Linked DNA regions of Homo sapiens: region 2 is linked to region 1. The links come from fine-mapping of genetic effects on plasma protein levels. A gene starts in region 1. The other region holds a variant in brackets. All regions are shown on one strand. Distances are between the middles of the regions.

Region 1 (5,376 bases):
CTTATAGGGCTAGGAATGCCCACTGCTACAGGAACCAGAATAGCCAGTTTAACTACTTCATTATCCTACTACCATACACTCTCAAAGGATTTCTCAGACAGTTTGCAATAAATAAATCTATCCTTACTCTACAATCCCAAATAGACTATTTGGCAACAGTGACTCTCCAAAACCGCTAAGGTCTAGACCTCCTCACTGCTGAGAAAGGAGGACTTTGCACCTTCTTAGGGGAGGAGTGTTGTTTTTAAACTAACCAGTCAGGGATAGTACAGGATGCTGCCTGGCATTTACAGGAAAAGGCTTCTGAAACCAGACAACACCTTTCAAATTCTTATACCAACCTCTGGAGTTGGGTGACTTGGCTTCTCCCCTTTCTAGGTCCCGTGACAGCCATCTTGCTATTACTCACCTTCAGTCCCTGTATTTTTAACCTCCTCCTCAAATTTGTTTCCTCCAGGATCAAGGCCATCAAGCTACAGATGGTCTTACAAATGGAACCCCAAATGAGCTTAACTCACAACTTCTACCGAGGACTGCTAGACTGACCCACTGGCCCTTTGACTGGCCTAGAGAGTTCCCCTCTGGAGGACACTACAACGGCAGGGCCCCTTCTTTGCCCCTATCCAGCAGGAAGTAGCTAGAGTGGTCATCACCCAGTTCCCAGTAGCAGGTGGGGTGTCCTGTTATGAGGGAGGATTGAGAGGTGAGGCCAGCTGGACTTCCTAGGTCGAGTGGGGACTTGGGGAACTTTCCTGTCTTACAAGAGAATTGTAAAATGCACCAATCAGCGCTCTGTAAAACGCACAATCAGCAGCATTCTAAAAGTAGCCAATCACGGGGAGGATTGAAAAAAGGGCACTCTGATAGGACAGAAATGGAACATGGGAGAGGACAATAAGGGAATAAAAGCTGGCCACCCCAGCCAGTAGCGGCAACCTGCTGGGGTCCCCTTCCATGCTGTGGAAGCTTTGTGCTTTCGCTGTTCACGATAAACCTTGCTATCACTCACTCTTTGGGTCTGCGCCATCTTTACGAGTGTAACACTCACTGCGAAGGTCCACAGCTCCATTCTTGAAGTCAGCAAGACCACGAACCCACCGACAGGAACCAACTCTGGACACAACTATAGCCTCCAACTCCTGGGCTCAGGCAATCCTTCTGCCTTAGCCTCCCAAGTAGCTGGGGCTACATGCATGCACTAATGTCTAGCTAATTTTATTTTTATTTTTGGAGAGACAGGGTCTTGCTCTTTCACCCAGGCTGGTCTTGAACTCTCAGCCTCAAGTGATCCTCCCACCTTAGCTTCCCAAAGCACAGAGATTACATGCCTTTCCCTCAAGCTACTTGCCATCTCATCTTCCTTACTATATTAAAAGCAAAGGCTCCGGACATGGACTACTGGGGTTGGATTTCTGGCTCTGCTCTTTAACAGCTATGTGATTTGGACAGCTGGTTTCTTTCTGTGCCTCAGTTTCCTCATATGTAAAAGGAGGATATGAACAATGGCTTCCATGCCTGGCCTTCTTTTTCACTTTATAAATAAGTATACTTCTCTCCTTTCTGAATGTGGGAATAATACATTGTTTATAAATTTAGAAGTTGGAAACTACAAAAAAAAAAAACACAAAAAAAAGAGAGAGAGAAAGAAAATCATTACATTATTCCTAATCTCATTTGATGTACTTTGGCCTATTTCTTTCAGGCACTTTTCTGCATGTACCTTTTTTCCATAGCTGAAACCATATTGTATAAATAGCTTCAGATTCTGGTGGGGTGGTTTTTTCATGTAGTAGAACAGGTGTTTTCCCAAGTCCCTGAGCTCTCACTCTGCACACCCCATCTACCATTTCCCAGTGATGTGGCTTTGGGCGGTTGCTGCAGTTTGCTATTACACAAGTAAGCATGCAACCCACACCTGGGGAGAGAACTTTCTTCTCTCCTGAATCTCGGCTCGCATCTTTAAGCGCCACCCCATTAGACAGGAGGCAGCAGAAGCACAAAGCTCCATGAGTAACTCCTCTCCCTTTTGGAAAAGTTCACAGAAAGCAATTTTGGAGACCTTGGCAACGTTTAATTATGAACATTTAGAAAGACAACGGATCTCCTCATATGCACTGGGACTTCAGGGCCAGGTCTTCAGTTTCATGATTCGCATGATTCGCAGGGCTCCGGCACAGGAGCAATCTGAAAGCTGGGCTGCAAGCCCAGCGCGGTCTGCCTCCTGAGGCCCCGACCCACTGCGGCGGCGGCGCTGGGCCCCCTTACCTGGGCAGCGCCAGGGCCTCCTCCGTGCGGCCGAGGACGCCGAACACCGCTGGCAGCGCCAGCACCCCGTCAAGGTCGAAGACGGCCGCGCGCAGCGTCATGGCGGCGGGTCTGCAGCCTAGCACCCGGACACGCAGCTAACCTGGGAGATGCGCGAAGGCCAGGGCGCATGACCCGCCCAGCTTGGCCCGGCTCTGCCCCGCCCCTGCCCTGGCCCCGCCTCCTCCCCACACCCCCTTAACGGGACTCCGCCCTCTGCCCGGGTTAAGGCTGGACTCTGGCCGGGAAAGAGGCAGGGGGAGGGGCACAGGAAAGGGAGTCAGAGGGAGAGGAAGAGGAGGCCGGGAAGGCGGGGACCCCAGGCTAGAATCTCGCCTCTGGATGTAACGCTTTCTACTGTCTCAAAGGAAAGTCCAAAGTCTCTTATGCCCCCTCCCCACGCCCCTGCAGTAGCTGCTTGAAGAGGCAAACCCAGGCCCGGGCCTTCCTGGACGGACTGACAGCTCCCTGCGAACTTGCTGGACTTGGAATGCCTGGGAAAGAGGCCACAGACTCTGTGTGTGTGTGTGTGTGTGTGTGTGTGTGTGTGTGTGTGTGTGTGTGTGTGTGTCAGCACATCCAGTGACTTCTACATTCAGAACATAAGACCGTGTTGGGGGGCGGGGGAGGGGCATATCCAGTGACTTTTCTAGATTCAGAACGAAGGATCACAGATCCCTCACTATCCTGACCACTCCTCTAGGCACGCTCTTCTTTGCCAAGGCAAATGTGTTTCTAGAATAAAATATGATGTTCCAGCTATCGTGTGCCAGCCCAGAATACTTCGATTTCAATCTCTTGTGGAATGAAGCTTAGAAGAACTAAATGTAGGCTATTATTTTCCTTTTGTACATGCTACTTGTAATAATTCTGTCTTAAAATGTGCGAGGTTTGTTTTTAATCACCGATTTCCACACTATTGGCTCGTTTATGTTCCTAGAAAAACTAAAACTTTGGCTGGGAGTTCTTGAGCTGTTGTAGTGCAGCTCCATGAATTAAAAACCGTGTCTTTGGTGGAGACCAAACAGAGTGAGTGAGGTCTCCAACAGTGGAGAATTTACTCTTGAATGTGTCTCTGTGGATTTATCCAAGATACCCTCCACCACGGAGCTTCAAGAACCTTGTGAGGGGTTGTCAGATACCTCACTGTAACTGGGAGGTCTACAACAGTCTCTGGATCTAGCAATCAACAACAGGATTGACCAGAGCCGTGGGTTTCCTCTGGGCTGTTTGCCCTTAGCAAGCTATGCTGTTGCTTCCTTCTCTAGCTTGGTAACCTCTTCCAGGCTCCTGCCTGGAGCAGTTATTAGTGTTTTCTGAGATTCTTGCCAAAGAAGCAGAGAGTGGCCAACACTGCCAAATGTTACAGGAAGAACTGAAAAAAAAGCTGTCCAATTTTGGACTTGGATGACACCGGATGTTTCAGAACACTTTTTGTGGGCCCTTTATGGTAGAAACTGGATTACTCTGGATTTGAAGACTGAAAGATAGGCAGAGAAGGGAGTACAGCAAGCTAGTTTCTCATGAAGTTAGTTGATCTCAAAGGTATAATTGAATTTTAAAAAATAGAAAGAAAATTGCAGCCTGACCTATATAGTATGAAACCTGTTAAATCTCCAGATTGGGCATGGTGGCACACACCTGTAATCCCAGCACTTTGGGGCTGAGGTGGGAGAATTGCTTGAGGCCAGGAGTTTGAGACAAGCCTGGGCAACAAAGCAAGACATTCTCTCTATAAAAAATAAAAATAAAATATTAGCTAGGCATGGTGGTGCATGCCAGTAGTCTCTGCTATTCAGGAGGCTGAGGTGGGACGATCACTTTAGCCCAGGAAGTGGAGGCTGCAGTGAGCCATGATTGTGCCACTGCACTCCATCCAGCCTGGGTGACACAGCAAGACTCTACCTCCAAAAAAAAAAAAGAAAGAAATTAAATCTCCAACTTAGAGTTTCCTTTGGGCTCCAGACTTGCCAACTTCTTACTCAACATCTTACTCAACGTCAATATCCAACTTCTTACTGAACATCTTCTCTTGAGTGTCTAACAGGCATCTCAAATTTATCATGGCTAAAACAGAACTCTCTCTGCATTTCTACTTCCCACGCCTGTTCCTCCTAGTGTGTTCCCTATCTTACAAACTGGCATCCCCATTGACTCAGTGGCTCAGTCCCGAGACCACGGAGTTGCTTCCAGATCCTTGGCTCCCAGCCAAACCATATGTTCGTGTTTCTAGCGGTGGCCTGCTGATTGAGGCAGAGATAGCAGCTTCTAGTTCTATGGTGGTGTTTTCTGGGAGTCCTTCCTAAAGGCTCAGTCTGGAGCTCACTCCTCCATTCCGTTCAAAGATTGTGTAGGCTTGCAGTCTCTCATCTTAAATCCCTTTCTTCTGTTTCTATTTAAAATAACTACAGTGATTTCTGTTGCCTGCATCTGAATTCTGCATCTAGCACAGTATTGCTTATGAATACGTAAGTATATTTATACAAGCAGTAAAGTGTAGAGGAACGACATACCTACAGAACTAGATTTCATAAAGCCCCCTTTTGAGAAGAAAAATTTAAAAACATAGAAATATGAGTTTTACTTTCCTCTTTGGTTAAGAGAAAGCCATGAAGCTATCACATGGACTTTTATTTATTCAGGAGCAGTTAACTTGTAAATAGCTCTGGTGTGGAATATTTTTATAATGCCTTGTGAGTTACAGAGCTTTCTGGCTGAATTGCTTAGGCAAAGATTAAAGGTCTCAATTGCATTTCACTGCACTTTGCCCTTTTTCATGGTCGTGCTTCTCCTGTGTTTTCTGCTACTAAGGTACAGAGAGATAAGGGCTTACCCAGCAGGGCTATGGGAACTGGGTGGCTTTTTGAAATGTAAATCCTAACCCCTATGTCTTCTAATTTTAATATTTATGAAATATGTTTTAGGTGATAGCATGAATCATAAAAGATGGCTAATGTAGTAGTGAAAATTTATAAATTACACCTGATTTCAATCACTAAATTCATAATGAATGTACACTGACCTCATTAAGGTTTATTTTGGGTTTTCTGCCATTCCTGTGCCTTCTGCAAC
Region 2 (5,376 bases), 47 kb before region 1:
ATTTGCTCCGTTTTTCCTCTAAGGCAGGAAGAGAACCCAGGCCAGGTGGCTGCATCCTGTCACCTCCCACGTGCCGCACAGACCCTCTGTGGTATCCCACTGTGGACCCCTCTCTTGTCTTCAGGGTGCTGCACAGTCCCTCCAGAGGATGGCCTGTGATGACCCCTGGCAGCCCAGGGACCACTGCAATTTCACAGGGCACAGCCTCAATGCTGGTGCCTGAACAGGGCCCGTCGGCATTTTCAGATTCACGAAGACCCGGAGGCACAGGAACTGGTCATTCCAGGCTTTTGTGAGACACATCAAAGGGGTATGTGATGAGGATGTCACCCTGTGATGAAGCCACCCTGAGCCTCCCCACCAGGCGGGTGCTCCAGACTCACTGTACCTCAGGGCCCCTCTGCGAGCATCCCAGCTGCTCTGCCTCCCGTGAGACTGTGGGCTCACTGAGGGTGGCCACCCTGCTTCGTGTGTCTGGGTAGCTGAGCATGCAGCCCCAGCTTCATACCCAGCCTGTGCTCACAGCATTTGAGGAATGAATGAATGGGTGAATGAATGAGTGACAGACGGTGTGAAGGAATAAGGGAATGTGGGTGTGGGGGAGGGAAGGAAGATGTTCTTTGAGCAGTGACAAGAGCATGGCCTGCAGGGTCAGAGGAGTTTAACCCCAGCTCAGCCACTTCGGACAAGTTACTTAACCCTCTGAGACCTGTTTTCCTCTTTGGAAATTAAAAATAGTAGCATTTTTCAGAATGCTTCGAGGATCACAAATATTTTATCTAAAGGGGGTTAGTCCAGAGTTTTATACAGATGGTCAGCACGTGCCCAAACAAGTGACAGTGGTCATCATTATTCATAAAAATACAAGTGAATGCTGTCAAGGCCACAGTGCTGCAGCAAAAATAAGGTCTTGTGGGAAGAGTGCTGGATCTAGGGGCCATGGGGATGAGCTCAAATCAAATCTCAACTCTGACCCTTCACTCATACCCAACCCAGGAGGGAGACAAGGATGAGCTCCAGGTGGGGGAATTGGAAACATGGCGCCTGGATGGAGAGGGGCCAGTGGACTGCAATGGAGGAGACCTGGGCAGGGGCCCCACTCCACTCCACCTGCATACACGAGGTGACCCCCATAGAGGTAAGCTCTCAATCCTGGGGTCCTTATCAGTAGAGGGTGGATTTTGCCCTGGACAAGCTCTAAGACTCCTCCAAGCTCTTACTGCTTAAGATCTTGAAGCCACAGCTCCCTAGAGGGTAGGAACTCCAGGCTGTGTGCTCAGGCCTGGGGTTAGAGTCAGCCCTATGCATGCCGAGGGGACCCTGGTTGGGCAACTTAAAGTTCAGAGCTGGAGAGCTCAGGGCTTCTGCCCATAGCAGTCAGAGACAGAAACATCCCTTTAACATTCAGCTGGTTCCAGATATGGCTCTCCCAAGCATGTCTCTTACCCGCTTCACAGACTTTATGCATGGATAAAACACTCTGAAGGAAGAAAAGAAAAGAGTTACAAATGATGTCATGGGTGATACAAAGGAAATATGCTCATCTGAAAACCCTGTTACGACAAATGACAAAGGAAATATGCTCATCTGAAAACCCTGTTATGACAAATGACCTCTGAGTACCACGCAGACTGTAACAAACATGTGGAACTCCCAAGAGAGCCAGGGACCCCCTCACAGAAGTCAAGTAAAGAGCGGGCTCACGACCAAAGCTCTGGGCTGAGACTGCCCCAGGGCCCTTGCAGACCTTGGTAATATGAAGACCTAGGTTTATCAGCCAATGGGAACAAGAAAAGAGACCTTGGCCTATGATGAGAAGTTGAAGATGTGATATTCCATGCTCCTCCATGGTAAATCCAGTAAATCTGGGGTCTCTGACATGCTATACCCTCAGTGAAAAAATTGATTAGAAAAAAAATCCCCTCATGATGATAAAGATGTTAAAGGAGTTTGTCTGTTTCAGCTTGGTACTAAGAGGAAACCAAAAGACACCCCCTTGGGAATTCATAGCTCTAGGCCTGCCTTCCCAAGTGCTTGGATTTGAGTTTGCATTCTCTGCATGATCTGGAAACTCTCAAGGTGTGAAGTAAACAAGAACAACAACAACAATAACAACAAAGTGAGCCTGGGTTGGTAATGCCACCAGGATGCCTGGCAGAAGAAATCCTTAACCACTCAAGGGGTCATTTCCTCAAGCCCAATTGAAGCAGATGGGTACAGATTAAGTACTGCTGAAGATGAGCTTATAAACCAAAATTACAAAACCCACACTCACACAAAAAGGCCCCACAGCAAGAGGCAAAAAATGTAGCAAACAGTAAATACGACTCCCCAAAAACATCCAATAACAGAGTTTGCGAGAGGGAGAGAGAGAAACAAGAGAGAATTAGAAATGAATATACTTAAAATAATTGAAAACATAAAAGGAACTGAAAAATAAGAATACAACAAGACTCTATCAAAAGAGATCAGAATGATTTGAAAAAGAACCAAATAAAACTTTCACAAATTAAAAAAAACTATTTATTGAAATTAAAACTTCAAAGACAGGTTAAACTGCAGATCAGACACTGCAGTGTCCAGGACAATTAATTGGCTAAGACAATTAATGTATAGGAGGTTAGACCCGAGGCTGACTCACAAGCAATGACAGAAGTTTCTAAAAGAAAATAACCTAAAATTCTATACTCAGATAAATGATTCTTCAAGATTAAAATTAAGATGTCTTCAGGCACCAAAATGTGAATTTACCACCAACAGACTCTTATTGAGAGAACTACTAAAGGGGATGTTTCAGGAAGAAAGAAACTGAACTCAATGCAAATGAGTGAGATGCAAGAAGTGATCAGTAAAGAAAGTAGAAAATATGGGACAGTTTGAGCAGGCACTGACTGTATATAAAACAACAATAGTGATGATGACTCCTAACACCTAAGACAGGAGGGTGCAGCTTACAGAGTTAAAGGTTTCTAAACTCCTCTGCTTCAAGAAGAGGGTTGGGGACATCAATTAATTTTGTACTTGGGTAAGCCAATTATGCATGTTAAAATGGTAATGGTAATAGCATAATTTCCAAGCCATCATTATTATAATCATTCTCTGACCTTGTGTGTCAACGAGGATGTAAATTTTCCCAGTAGAGTGAGGACCTCAATTACCCTGACTATAGAAATGAAAGAAAAGGAGGCCAGATTGCTACTCCTGGTCCCTGCCACACACTAGGTACCCTACTTCCTTCACAACTGCCCCCTCCTGTTCTTCTGCACCCATCCCCACCCCTCACCTCATCGCTTGCTCTGAAGAGGCTTTTGAAAGTCCGAC[T/GACT]CAGGTTCTGTTCCAGTTCAGCCTCAGCCACTCCCTAAAACAATCAAGAAAGCAAAATGAAGGACCCCCTAGAAATCGTGGAAACTGTACCCCTCCTTCATCTGACTGAAAGCAACAAGCACCCTACCTGTGCCCCATCCAGCCCAAGTTTCATCAGAATAGCATCCATTTGAATTTTCATCATAAAACATGTCTTTTAAAAAGGTTAGCATAAAATACAAGATGCTAACTGTAGTTCCCCACGGGAGGCAGGTTTATAGATGCCACTTTCTTTGTGTTTTTCAATATTCCTATAATGAGAAGGTACTACTTATAATAATCTCTTGAAAGGACTTGGGAGGGGGCTGGTAGAGGAATGGGTTGGAGGCTGACTGGTGGTAAGAAGAGAGGGGCTCCAAGGATTCTGAGAAACCAAGCAGAAAAGCCAAAAACTATATACCAAATGCTCTTCCATCCAGGCATCTAAATTTCGCTATATTGAGGCCAGGAGTTTAAGAGCAGCCTGGGCAACCTAGCGAGACCCCATCTTTACAAAGAAACTTAAACAATTTTTTTTTTGCTGTAGAAACTTCAAAATCAACTCCTTTGACTTGGGTCTTAATTGTTACAGACCATTAGATTGCCAATAGATTGTATTCCACAGACAGGGCAGCAAGGTTTCCACTGTTAAAGAGCTGGGACACATAGCCTTCCTGGTGACAAATGACCAGGTCCTTCCAGTTCTTGGGAGCAGTATGGCATTTAATTACCCAGTCGACACACAGTTCTCTGGCTGTTCCCAGGTCTCTGGCTTGTGTATGGTGGGAATTCTCTGACCTGAACTTGCTTCATCAGCTCCACAGACACTGAGCTCCTTCTCTGGCAAACTGGACCAAGAGATGCCAATGTACAAAATAGGCTCCAGAACCTTCCTGGTGGACCAAAGGATGGGGGAGGGGCTTGGATGAGGACTAAAGTGAAGTGTCCAGGTCACTGAATGTCATGTGCTGAGGGCTGGGGAGGAGATTCCTACTGGAGGCTCAGGGTGTGGAGTCTTCCTCTCCTGCTTCCCCTCTCCTTCCTACCCCAACCCTCTCCAGGAGCACTTCAGCAAAGCAGACACCAAGAACAGGGGAATGGCTGGAAGGTGACAAGAGATCCATCCATGGATCCTACTCTCCTAGTGGGGGTAGCCTGGTTCATGGCTTTTTGGAGCATAAGAGGACAATTTTAATTCAAGCTGTCGTTTCCAGAAGTTGAAAGATGGTGGACCCGAAAGCTGTTCCAGACGTAGTTTAGGAGAAAACAGCTGTCCTGGAGGCAGAGATCCACTAGGGGCAACCACTCAGAAATAATAAAAATCTTGGCCGGGTGCAGTGGTTCACGCTGTAATCCCAGAGCTTTGGGAGGCCGAGGCAGGCAGATCACCTGAGGTCAGGAGTTTGAGACCGGCCTGGCCAATATGGTAAAACCCCGTCTCTACCAAAAATACAAAATTAGCCGGGCATGGTGGTGCATGCCTATAATCCCAGCTACTCAGAGGCTGAGGCAGGAGAATCACTTGGACCCGGGAGGCAGAGGTCACAGTAAGCCAAGATCTCACAATTGCACTCCAGCCTGGGCAAAAAGAGCGAAACTCTGTCTCAAAATAAATAAAATAAAATAAAATAAAATATTTCTGTAACACAGCTGCTGCTGAGGGACTAGTGCTACCAGAGGGAATTGAGTTAAGTGTGGCAATGCCAACTGACTCTCCTCTCCTTCCCTCTAACCACCCACCTGCACGCACCCAAACATCAGCTGAACTGTTCTGCATGTGTTTTCTGAGCGGGCCTCCTACTCGCTGGCCTCCCTGGTTTAACACATTGTGACCTTCACCAAGAGCATGGACTTCTATTAGTTTGGCCTTCAACACCGGACCCAAACACTGCCTTCTCCATGAGGTTCCATCTTTCCCACCACCAAGGGGTAACTCTGCTTTTCTTGGATCCTGCAGAGCCTTGAATGTGCTCTCCTGGGATCCCCTTAGTGGTGGGGACTCATCCTGTTCTCAGCAGCATCTGTGGCTGCCTTTGA

Evidence for each region. PIP is the posterior inclusion probability: the model's chance that the variant is causal. The UK Biobank Pharma Proteomics Project read protein levels with antibody pairs (Olink). The fine-mapping took linkage between variants from a reference panel, not from the people measured, so its PIPs are less certain.
Region 2: its variant is fine-mapped to the plasma level of the EPHX2 protein (UK Biobank, PIP above 0.99). The variant lies in the coding sequence of EPHX2. If it changes the protein, the assay may bind it differently, which can mimic a change of level.

Annotation. Positions count from the first base shown.
Region 1 is chr8:27,488,199-27,493,574 of GRCh38, reverse strand. EPHX2 (epoxide hydrolase 2) reads right to left here and starts at 2,432. Exons shown (of 19, transcript NM_001979.6): 1 at 2,266-2,432. The coding sequence starts at 2,366. RefSeq lists a silencer at 2,349-2,628 and a cis regulatory region at 4,375-4,689.
Region 2 is chr8:27,534,763-27,540,138 of GRCh38, reverse strand. EPHX2 (epoxide hydrolase 2) reads right to left here. Exons shown (of 19, transcript NM_001979.6): 13 at 3,284-3,355; 14 at 1,447-1,480. Among named protein-coding and RNA genes, the nearest start is that of EPHX2, 46 kb to the right of the region's middle. The variant T/GACT (reference allele first, on the strand shown) is at 3,322.